4 separate regions of the Homo sapiens genome follow, and all the other regions are linked to region 1. The links come from fine-mapping of genetic effects on gene expression. A gene starts in region 1. Each other region holds a variant in brackets. All regions are shown on one strand. Distances are from middle to middle. Region 1 holds the start of ADCY9 (adenylate cyclase 9). Region 2 overlaps LOC105371062 (a long non-coding RNA gene). Region 3 overlaps ADCY9 (adenylate cyclase 9). Region 4 overlaps ADCY9 (adenylate cyclase 9).

Region 1 (2,684 bases):
TTGCCCAGGCTGGAGTGTAATGGTGCGAACTCAGCTCACCACAACCTCCGCCTCCCGGGTTCAAGCAATTCTCCTGCCTCGGCCTCTCGAGTAGCTGGGATTACAGGCATGTGCCACCACGTCCGGCTAATTTTTGTATTTTTAGTAGAGATGGGGTTTCTCCGTGTTGGTCAGGCTGGTCTCGAACTCCCGACCTCAGGTGATCCGCCCACCTCGGCCTCCCAAAGTGCTGGGATTACAGGCGTGAGCCACCGCTCCCGGCCTAAACCACTTTAAAGTGTATGATTCAAGGGCAGTATGTAGATTCATCCTGTTGGATCATTTCTAGACTTTTTCATCATCCTAAAACGAAACCCCAAGCTGCTTATCTTCCTCCCCTAGCACCTGGCAACCTCCAATCTGTGTCGCCTCTACGGATTTGCCAATTCGAGACATTTCATCTGGATGGAATCATACGCTATGTGGCCTTTTTTGTTTGGCTTCTTTCACTAGCATAACGTTTCCCGGGTTCCTCCACACTGCAGCATGCATCGGTGCTCCATTCCTTTTTGTAGCCGAATAATATTCCATTGCATGGACAGATCACATTTTACTTTTATTTTCTAATTCAACAGTGAGACCTGGTGTGGGCCCCGGCGCTGGGCCTGGGAGGCGAGGGAGGGGATGGAAGAGAGCCCCGTGACTGGCAGGAGGCACTGTGGAGTGTGGGGAGAAGGGGTCGGGATCTGCATGCTAGAGAGAATAGGATTTTATTTACACGTGGCAATGTTTATGGAGGCCAATGCACAACTGCCATTATGGGACGCGGACTCCTTTGAAAGTCTCATTTGTGTAAAAGGAAAAGCAGTAGTTCATGAGGAGGGGGAGAAGGGCTCAAGGACAGCAAGGTAAACTACCCCTGGGGCGGGGGAACGTGGTCGTCGGTGGGCCCAGCTTTGGAGGCTAGGCCCGTGAAGGTCGCCCCGTGAGCAGGTCCAGGGCAGGCCGAGTGCCCCGGGGCCCGCATTCATTGCTTACAGAGCAAGGGGAGCCTCCCGGGAGGGAAATCCAACGGTTGGAAACTTCGATTTATCCCAAAGGCGTGCCGAGTGGGAAGGCAACATTTTGATTTCCCAAACGTTGCGGCCAGCGGCTTCTTCCACGGCAGGCGCCTTCAGGTCTCTCCGCAGGGTCGGGACCCCGGGCGGCGCGCGGCCTCTGGGACGCCGAGGGAGGGCGGGCCCACAGCGCCCGGAGCGCGGACAGCGGCCACAGCCCGCCGCCTAGAAGCGGCGCCGCCCGGGGCGGGGGGCGGAGCCGAGCGCGCGCCCCGCCCCGCCCCGCCCCGCCCCGCAGCCCCAGCCCAGCGCGCGCACCAAGGCGGGGCGGCGCGCGGCCCGTGCGCGTGTCCGGGGCCAGGAGGCGGTGGCGGCGAGCGCGGGCCGCGCGTGCGCGCTGCGGCTGGGCGAGGGGCGGCGCGGGCGCGCGTCTGTCAGTGACAGCGGGCGGGGCAGGGGCCGGAGATGGTGGCGGCGGCAGCTCTTCCGACATGAGGCAGCGGCCGCGGGGGACACGGCGGCGGGCGCGGCGGCGGCCGCATCTCTAGCTCGGGGAGGCGGCCCCCGGCGTGGGCGCGGGCGGGCGGGCGTCCCGGCCGGCGTCGCGGGAGCCCGGCTCTGCGGCAGCGTCTGCACCGCCGCCCGGCGAGGGGCCCGCGTCCGTGGTTCCACGCGCTCGGTCCCGGGACAGCTGCGGCCGCGGCGGGAGCGGCGGCGCACTCGGGGGGAAGCAGGCCCCACTAGACGGGCCGCGCCGACGGGCTCCGCGCACTCGCAGCCCGGGGCGCCCCCACCCCCAGCGCCCGCCGCCGCGGGCAGGGCCGGCCCGGAGCGCGGGGGGCGGCCGGGGAGCGCGAGCCGGGGGCGCCCGCCGAAGCTCGCTGCTCCGGGTCGGGGTCCGGGCCCGGGGCCGGCCGCGCGCCGCCTTTGACGCATCGGAGCGCGGCTCCTGCAGGATGGAGGGCTCCGCGCCGCCAGCGGAGTTGTTTGTGCGCAGGCGGCTCGCGGGGCTGGGAGCGCTCAAGGTCTGAACTTCCCTCCGGAGCCGCAGCTGGAGGAGGCGAGCGCGCGAGGAGGAGAAGCCGCGCGGCGCGGAGGCCACCCTCGGGGCGAGAGGCGCGGAAGGCGAGCGAGCAAAGCGGTCCCGGAGCCACGGCGGCCACGCGGCGGGGACCCCCGGGCGTTCTAGGTCCGTCCCGAGCGGTTCTCGTGCGCCTCGAAGGTGGGGGCGGTGGGGGCGGTGGGAGCACCGCTGAGCCGGGAACCACAGGAACAGATGGTGCCTGTCCAGGTCGCGTGCTGGAGCCGCCCCTTAGGACAGGAGCAGGTCCCGGGCCTCTAGGCGTGCATGCCTAGGTGGGAGCGCCGCTAACTCTCCCCGTTTTGCTGGCAGGTACTGGTGACCCCGGCCGGGGCAGGCCCCGGGACTCGACAACATGGCTTCCCCACCCCACCAGCAGCTGCTGCATCACCACAGCACCGAGGTGAGCTGCGACTCCAGCGGGGACAGCAACAGCGTGCGCGTCAAGATCAACCCCAAGCAGCTGTCCTCCAACAGCCACCCCAAGCACTGCAAATACAGCATCTCCTCTAGCTGCAGCAGCTCTGGGGACTCCGGGGGCGTCCCCCGGCGAGTGGGCGGCGGAG
Region 2 (2,684 bases), 65 kb before region 1:
GATCTCAGCTCACTGCAATCTCAAAACTCCCAGGCTCGAGCGATCCTCCTGCCGCAGCCTTCCCAGTAGCTGGGACTACAGGTGTGCATCATTACACCTGGCTAATTTTTTATTTGAAAGAATTTTTGCTAACGCCGTGCGCGGTGGCTCAAGCCTGTAATCTCAGCGCTTTGAGACGCTGAGGCGGGCGGATCACAAAGTCAGGAGTTCCAGACCAGCCTGGGCAATATGGTGAAACCCTCTACTAAAAATACAAAAATTAGCCGGCGTGGTGGCGGGCGCCTGTAGTCCCAGCTACTCGGGAGGCTGAGGCAGGAGGATTGCTTGAAGCTGGGAGGCAGAGGTTGCAGTGAGCCGAGATCAAGCCACTGCACTCCAGCCTGCCTGACAAGGCCAGACTCTGTCTTAAACACAAAAACGAACAAAAAAAAGTTTACCGGGCGCTGTGGCTTACGCCTGTAATCCCAGTACTTAGGGAGGCGAAGGCAGGTGGATCACTTGAGATTGGGAGTTCGAGACCAGTCTGACCAACATGGTAAAACCCGTCTACTAAAAATACAAAATTAGCCGGGTGTGGAGGCACAGGCCTGTGATTCCAGCTACTCAGGAGGCTGAGGCAGGAGGATCGCTTGAACCCAGGAGGTGGAGGTTGCAGTGAGCCCAGATCGTGCTACTACACTCCAGCTTGGGCAACAAGAGTGAAACTCCGTCTCAAAAATAAAATAAAATAAATTGGGCTTCTCGCTCTGTCGCCAGGCTGGTCTCAAACGTCTTATCTCAAGCGATTCTCCCGCTGCAGCCTCTGTGCTGGGATTACAGGTAGGAGCAACCGCACCCTGCCTGGCCTCTCTTTGAAACCTGCCCAGTGACAGGGATCTCAATGCAGGGCATTGCATGTCTTCTGACAGGATGCTGGTTTAGGTCACTCCCTCTGCCCTGCAAGCCAGCTGTGTCCCCAGCATTTCCCAGGGCAGAGATAGATCACTCCCTGTGAGAGTGTTTTGGTGTCAGTGTGGAACGGCTTCCCTGTTTGGCCCCCTGGGTATACTGGAACCTGGGAAGGGACCTCTCCAGCTAACCCAGGGCTGGGCAGGGAGTTACTGAAAGGAAAAAGGAATTTATTTTTAATTTCCTGGGTTTTCTTGGCTGTTGCTTTGGAGTGGAGATCATTTAGACATCTGGTACCCTGATGGCCTGAGAAGAGAAGGAAAGTCCTTGGAAAGGAGTTAGGTGACTTCTGGGTAAGAATGAGCTGATACAATGGTGGAGAGTGGGGAGAGCTGCTTAGTGGCCAACCTGGCCATCATTGCCGTATTCACTAGGGAGCTTTTATTCTCATCTGTGTCCTCCTCCTGTAACTTAACACCTAGAAGTGGCAGGGAATTGGATCATGAAAGAGCCATATAGTCCAGCCTACTCATTTGTGTGTGTGTATGTGTGTCTATATATATGTCTATATATATATAGGTCTATATATATAGGTCTATATATATATAGGTCTATATTGGTCTATATATATAGGTCTATATTGGTCTATATATAGGTATATATATGTCTATATG[C/T]ATATAGGTCTATATATATGTCTATATATATAGGTCTATATATGTCTATATATATAGGTCTTATATATGTCTATATATAGGTCTTATATATGTCTATATATAGGTCTTATATATGTCTATATATAGTCTGTATGTCTATATATAGGTCTATATATATAGTCTGTGTCTATATGTATAGGTCTATATATATAGTCTATGTATAGGCCTATATATATGTCTATATATATAGTCTATATATATAGGTCTATATATATGTCTATATATAGTCTATATAGGTCTATATATATGTCTATATATGTCTATATATATCTATATATGTCTATATATCTTTATATACACTATATATGTGTCTATATATCTATATAGATACTATATATGTCTATTATATATCTATATATATAGATATATATATTTTTTTTTAGAGACAGGGTCTCACGATGTTGTCCAGACTTAAACTCCTGGCCTCAAGCAATACCCCTGTCTCCGCCTCCCAAAGGGCTGGGATTACAAGCATGAGGCCCTGTGTCCGGACCCAACCCACTCATTTTAAAATTGAGGAAGTTTGAGGCCTGGAAATGGAAAAATGTGGCCCAGGGTCACGGAGGGAGCTGGTGGCAAAGATGAGACTTAAATTCAGGTCTCCCGATTCCCAGGCCTGCCCTTGTTCTCTACACTCTTTGTATTAGTCAGGATCCAGCAGAAAACAGATTAAATTGGGGACATTTAAAGTGGGGGCTTTGAGGCAGGATATAGGGAAACTGCTATGGAATGTGGAATATTCTGGGGCTGGTGACAGTGGGATCTTACCACCTCTGCACCTGGAGGCAGGTTGTGTGGAGGGCGATCTCACTAGAGCTGGGACTTTAAGTCAAGGAGCTCAAAAAGGGACTTGGAGGAATAAAAACCATAAACCCTGTCCCCACCTTCTCCCTCTGGTTTTGATTCCAGGCTCCACATGGACCAAACCCAGCTGGCAGTCAGAGGGCAAGAGCATCTCGATGCAGCGCATACAGGCCAATTCCAGGGTGCAGTGCAGCATGGAAAAGGAGAAATGTACCTGAAGAGGCAAATGAAAGATATACAGCGTCACAGGCAATCTTGCTTCTACTACCATAAAAATAG
Region 3 (2,684 bases), 110 kb after region 1:
GCAACAGAGCAAGACCCTATCTCTAAAGGAAAAACAAAACAAAACAAAACAAAACAAAACATGAAGAGTTTCTTGGGGCCAGTTGGCATCTAAAAATATCTAAGTCTTTTGATTCTCAGCTATGACCTGGCTACGTTCTAGGCTGTCTTTACGTGTTTCTAGGACTCTTGGCAAATTCTCAGAACAGTTGACTTAAAAAGATTAGCCACGTAGTATTTTTACAAGGAGAGAGGGAGGTGAAGTGATGAGATGGGGCCATACTTATAAAATGATTCGGGATTATTGATGAAGTAGTCCCTAGGTTTCTGATTAATTAATTTTAAAGCGCTGACCAAATATGTACCCAGCGTAAGAAGCCAGAGTCGATCAGTGTTGTAGACACGTCGCCTCTCGATGGCATCTTTCCATGCCACACCCTTCACGACCTGAAGCTGGAGCTTAAACCCTTCAAGAAGGGTCCCTGCGACCGGGTGCAGTGGCTCACACCTGTCATCTTTGGGAGGCCAAGGTGGGCAGATCACTAGGAGTTCTAGGCCAGTCTGGCCGACATGGAGAAACCCTGTCTCTACTAAAAATACAAAAATTAGCCAGGCGTGGTGGTGGACACCTGCCTGCTCACAGGCTGAGTCAGGAGAATTGCTTGAACCCAGGAGGTGGAGGCTGCAGTGAGCTGAGATCGCACCATTGCACTCCATCCTGGGTGAGAGAGTGAGACTCCATCTCAATTAAAAAAAAAAAAAAGAAGGGACCCTGCTTTGTTCATGATTTTATTCTCGGTGTGTGGCATACACTAGGCCTGAAATAAATGTTATTTAAATGTTAAATTACATTGTCCCTCCTTCCGATACATTTGCCATCTGGTTAAATTCCAGTGAAGTCAAAGGATGGATTTCTTTAAATAAAGTTTGCTTCTTTTTCAAAAATTCCTTGGGCTCTTTCTAGAAAAGCTGCTCCTTTGCCATCTTCCCAGCAGATTCCCGGGGCAGGATCCACCCACCTGTTCACAGCTCCTTCCAGCGCAGTGTGGGTCCGGCTGTTAGCTCAGCCTCAAAGGAGAATTGTAAAGATACAGGTCAAGTGTCCTTTTGACCACCTTTTTTTTTTTTTTCTATATGCGGGATTTTGTGAGACAATAAAATGCATGTGGACCTCAGCTTAACAAAAGCTGAATGTTCCTGGGGTGAGTGTTTGAATCCAACAGGAAATAGATGCTCAACAGCTCTGAGTCTGGGGAGGTTTTAATGGCCTCTTGGTCCCTGGTAGGGTCTTGTTTTTCGGGGTAGTTTTGCAGCCTCTGACACAGGTAAGATGGTCAGTACCGGAAGCTGCCATGACGTCTAGACTGACCGTTAGGAAGGTACTCACTGGACTGGTATTCACAGATGGAAATAAACCAAAGCAGTGTCTAGGGTCAACCAATCTGCTTTGCTGCCTTCACGGGGAGGTCCTGGGACCCTTTCATGGAGGAACTTTTTAATGCTTATTTTAACCCTGAAGGTAAAACATGAAACATGCAGCCATTACTCCAAGAAAACGTAACGTGGGTGAGTGGTGTGTCTCGGGGGCCCACGGTCTCCCTGAGGCCGCATCTCTCTGGAGAGATCGT[G/A]GACGTCCGTCGTAAACTATGACCTATTCACATTTTCACTTTACTCTCAACTTTCCAGGAGTGAGTCCTCTCCAGAGAGCAAGACGGAGCTGCGTTTCAACAGACGGTGCTTTCAATCTGTGCTGACTGTAACTTTTATCCATCATAGGTTTGAAGACATACCTGATATCGGGTCAGAGAGCCAAGGAGTCTCGCTGCAGCTGTGCAGAGGCCTTGCTTTCTGGCTTTGAGGTCATTGACGGCTCACAGGTGTCCTCAGGCCCTAGGGGACAGGGGACAGCGTCATCAGGGAATGTCAGTGACTTGGCGCAGACTGTCAAAACCTTTGATAACCTTAAGGTTAGTTTTTTTGTTTTTTTTTTCCTACTTCTAAAACTTTCTATTAATTCTGCAGTAGAGCACGTGAAATAATAAGCAGCCTCCAGGTCTGAGGCAAACAACTTGGAATGACCTTCGATTTGGTTTTCACGATTTTAATATTTAGTCTAAAGTTAGTAGCATTCTGCATTTTTAACATCCTTGCTTTTTGACATATGACGCACCTCCATTGCCTTTCCATTGCACAAGGATGCTTCTCATTTGAATTATTAGTTATTTTCTCTTCCTGGGACCTGTGGTGCCTTTTGGGATTTCTAGAAGCTGGTGATAAATGACAGTAAAGGTGGCTTTCCTTGGCACCTTGGGTGGAGAGCTAGTTGATAATCTGATTTCAGAGACCACTTTCTCAAATACTTCTACGTCTCTTGAAATCCACTATTTTATGATTACTTGAAATGATGTTGGTGTGGGTGAATCCTAGGACACAGCTCACTGAGAGGACAGGCTGCCGAGAACATTGTAGTATTTCATTATTGGAACCGGGATCTCCTGGTAGCTGCCTAGAAGTGCCCGTTTCTGGACTGACCTGTCATCATAAACTACCAGGGAATTGGCGCGGTCGACCTTGGGTGTGTGAAATCATTTCAGTTTATGAGCTGTTCCTTTGCTTTCACATTTGATTTAGTTTCCCCACTGGTACCTTCTGTTTATTTTTATAGTTTAAACATCTACTGTCTCCATTCTTAAAATGAGACAGAGA
Region 4 (2,684 bases), 150 kb after region 1:
TGTCTATGTCACAGTGTTCCTCTACGACCCGACCTCTCTATGTAAGCACACATGCGCACACACACTTGCATTCATGAATCTGATATAAAGTGCCAGTAATCCGCCAAGAGGGGGTGCGAAGGGGGCATGTCACGACAGCTCCGCCACCCCCCATTGCCCACCCGCACTTTCCCGAGCACCGCGCCCCGTGGGCTGTGGGTGAGCCGCGCTCCCTGCACTGAGCGGGTTTAGGGGCTCGCCCACATGCATGCAGGCCAAGACAGCAAATGCCAGCCGGGCACGACGCCCGTGTGCCCAGGCCTCGGGGGTCTCAGAGCCGCCTCTCACCCCCGACCCTCCACCCAGGGGTCTCCCCATCGGGAGTGGAGGTGTTGGTCCTGGAAGCTGACTCATCGGAGAGGGAAATACCAAATAAACATCCGAGGTTGCATTTATTTATTTATTTATTTACCCGGAAGCATGTGCGCTCCCGGGAGGGGTGCTGGGTCCTCAGGGTGGGGGGTCATAGCCACAGGGGAGGGCAGTTCCCAGGAAGGTAACCAGATGTCTCTTTTGTGTTTTGGCCACCTGGGGCCGCCCCCAACCTCCCCACCCCAAGAGGGGTCTGAGTGGGACCTCAAAGCATGGCCAGTGCAATTCTGAGGCTAGGGGAATAGGAGAAGCCCACCAGCTGCCCCTGCCACCCACGGGGGCTCCTCCCTGCCGGGGTCCAGCTCAGAACCACGGGGGTCTGTGCCGGCAGCACCGGTGCCATCTTGGCTTCCACAAATTCCAGAAGTTTCTTGGCTGCCTCCCGCTCTCAGATGGCACAGGGCCTATCAGTGGCAGGATTTAATCTGGGGAGCAAATTCCAGCTCTGAAATGGAGTTCTCACACCGTATCTAGGGACAGAGGCATCTGGATGCAAACGCGGGGTTTGTTAGGGGCGGAATCCCGAGGGTGGTGTGGGGGAGCTCCGTCCGGGCAGTTGGCTGCTGGTCCTGTCTGATTATGTTTTGCCATATTGAGTCTGAAGTTTGTGTGGAAGTGAGCTCGCCCGAGTTGTCCGGTC[G/C]GAGTTGTAGCCAGTCTTTCAGGGGACCCCGGGACGCTGATGAGGCCCAGGGTGCACTCCTTGTCAGTCTTGCCCGTTGTCCCTGTGCATTTTGCTTTCCGCTGTCAAATCTCACTGTCTCGTTTTCACACCGCATCAGTCCCCATCATCACTACTCCTCCCCAGAGACATACAGATTGCCCTCCCCGGCATGAAGAAGTCACAATTCTGACCCGCCACCTCTCCAGGGGCGGTGCCTGGGATGGCCACCCATCAGGACAGCCAGAGCCAGGGTCCCGGCGTCCTGAGAGTCCAGGGCACCTCCCCCCATTAGCTGTAAGGTTTCCTGTCAGGTGTGACTGTCAGTTTGCTGGTCTTCCAATACCGAAGAAAGGGTGGTTGTGACAATACCTCTTGCTTCTAAAGAATGTATTATAAAACACCGCAGATTTTTTTTTTTCCTTAAAAAACACTACCTGATGCTTTCCTTGTTCGTGGGGATTGTGGTCACATGAAGCTCTTTCTGCATCAGTATTAAGGTGTATATTTGAATGTCCTCCCCTCCCCTTTCCCCTCCAGGCTGTGTAGCTTTGAGGGGCTGGGCGTTTGCTCACGACCTTGCTGTCTCGCTCAGAACATGCTCCGCAAAGTTCTCCGCACACACTTCTTCCCCATCAAGCCCATTTCCTTCCCCAACCACAAAGGTGTTTGTGATTCCTCACCCCGGGAAACCAAGGAGCTGCAAAGTGGAGTCTGGTTCAGCCCCGTGCAGACTCACCCAGAGCTTAACGTTGTCTTTCAAACACCCTGAGCCTTCCTAAACAGCCAGTGCAGACGTTCTCTCTGGGCCACGAAGCCCCTCGGGTCCTCCCCGTCCCCTGCTCCGATGCATACCTCAGTGCAGAACCACAGAATCTCTGCAGCGGAAACGCCGTGCATCTCTTGTCTGTTGGCAGCGAGCACATCGTGCTGGAGACACGAGTTTCTAAGCAGCTGGCACGAGGGCTGCTGACGGCATGGGTCGTGCTTCAGGGTGGCAATACCTCTTAGGAACTTAGGGCAGGAAGCAATACTTCAGCATTGAATGTGTGTAAATAGTTGCTTTGAGTTGCAATTGCTATTTTCTTCTCAGTCCCAGCTCAGATCGAATTATATATCCATATATATATATATATATATATATATATATATATATATATATATATGGTAAACAAGCACACACAATTTTATCCAATGCAAACAAATGTAGAGCATCAGTTACAAAACCCTCGAATAGCTTGAGAGCCCCACAGGCTCTGCCACACCCGTGACTTCATCCACACTGACGTCACCCGCGGGGGCTCCCCCTGCACATTTGCACACGATCCGGAGAGCCGAAGGCCGCGTGCTTCCTGTCACATGGGCTGTAATCATTTGTAGTTTCCAAAGACACGTCTGCATTTGAATTTCTAGATTTTCGAGGTAAGGAGTTTTTTTTAATTGGTTGTTTGGAAAATCACATCATGCCTAGAATCTGAAATTGAATTAGCAAGAACCGACTGTTTGCATTTTCCATATATCCTTTTATCTGCTCTTTTTAAATTGTTAATTCTAATAATTTCAAAATGCATTCACTGAAGAAATGGACATTAAAATATTCTAAAATTTAAATATA

Evidence for each region.
Region 2: its variant is fine-mapped to the expression of ADCY9 in whole blood (INTERVAL, PIP above 0.99).
Region 3: its variant is fine-mapped to the expression of ADCY9 in whole blood (TOPMed, PIP above 0.99). The same link has a PIP of 0.9 or more in blood mononuclear cells.
Region 4: its variant is fine-mapped to the expression of ADCY9 in whole blood (INTERVAL, PIP above 0.99).

The regions. Positions count from the first base shown.
Region 1 is chr16:4,115,232-4,117,915 of GRCh38, reverse strand. ADCY9 (adenylate cyclase 9) reads left to right here and starts at 1,474. Exons shown (of 11, transcript NM_001116.4): 1 at 1,474-2,226; 2 at 2,431-2,684. The coding sequence starts at 2,474. RefSeq lists a silencer at 1,267-1,336.
Region 2 is chr16:4,180,138-4,182,821 of GRCh38, reverse strand. LOC105371062 (a long non-coding RNA gene) reads left to right here. Exons shown (of 2, transcript NR_188654.1): 2 at 2,511-2,684. Among named protein-coding and RNA genes, the nearest start is that of SRL, 61 kb to the left of the region's middle. The variant C/T (reference allele first, on the strand shown) is at 1,563.
Region 3 is chr16:4,006,629-4,009,312 of GRCh38, reverse strand. ADCY9 (adenylate cyclase 9) reads left to right here. Exons shown (of 11, transcript NM_001116.4): 3 at 1,755-1,945. Among named protein-coding and RNA genes, the nearest start is that of TRIDDENT, 58 kb to the right of the region's middle. The variant G/A (reference allele first, on the strand shown) is at 1,607.
Region 4 is chr16:3,962,649-3,965,332 of GRCh38, reverse strand. It overlaps ADCY9 (adenylate cyclase 9), which reads left to right. Exons shown (of 11, transcript NM_001116.4): 11 at 1-2,680. Among named protein-coding and RNA genes, the nearest start is that of TRIDDENT, 14 kb to the right of the region's middle. The variant G/C (reference allele first, on the strand shown) is at 1,052.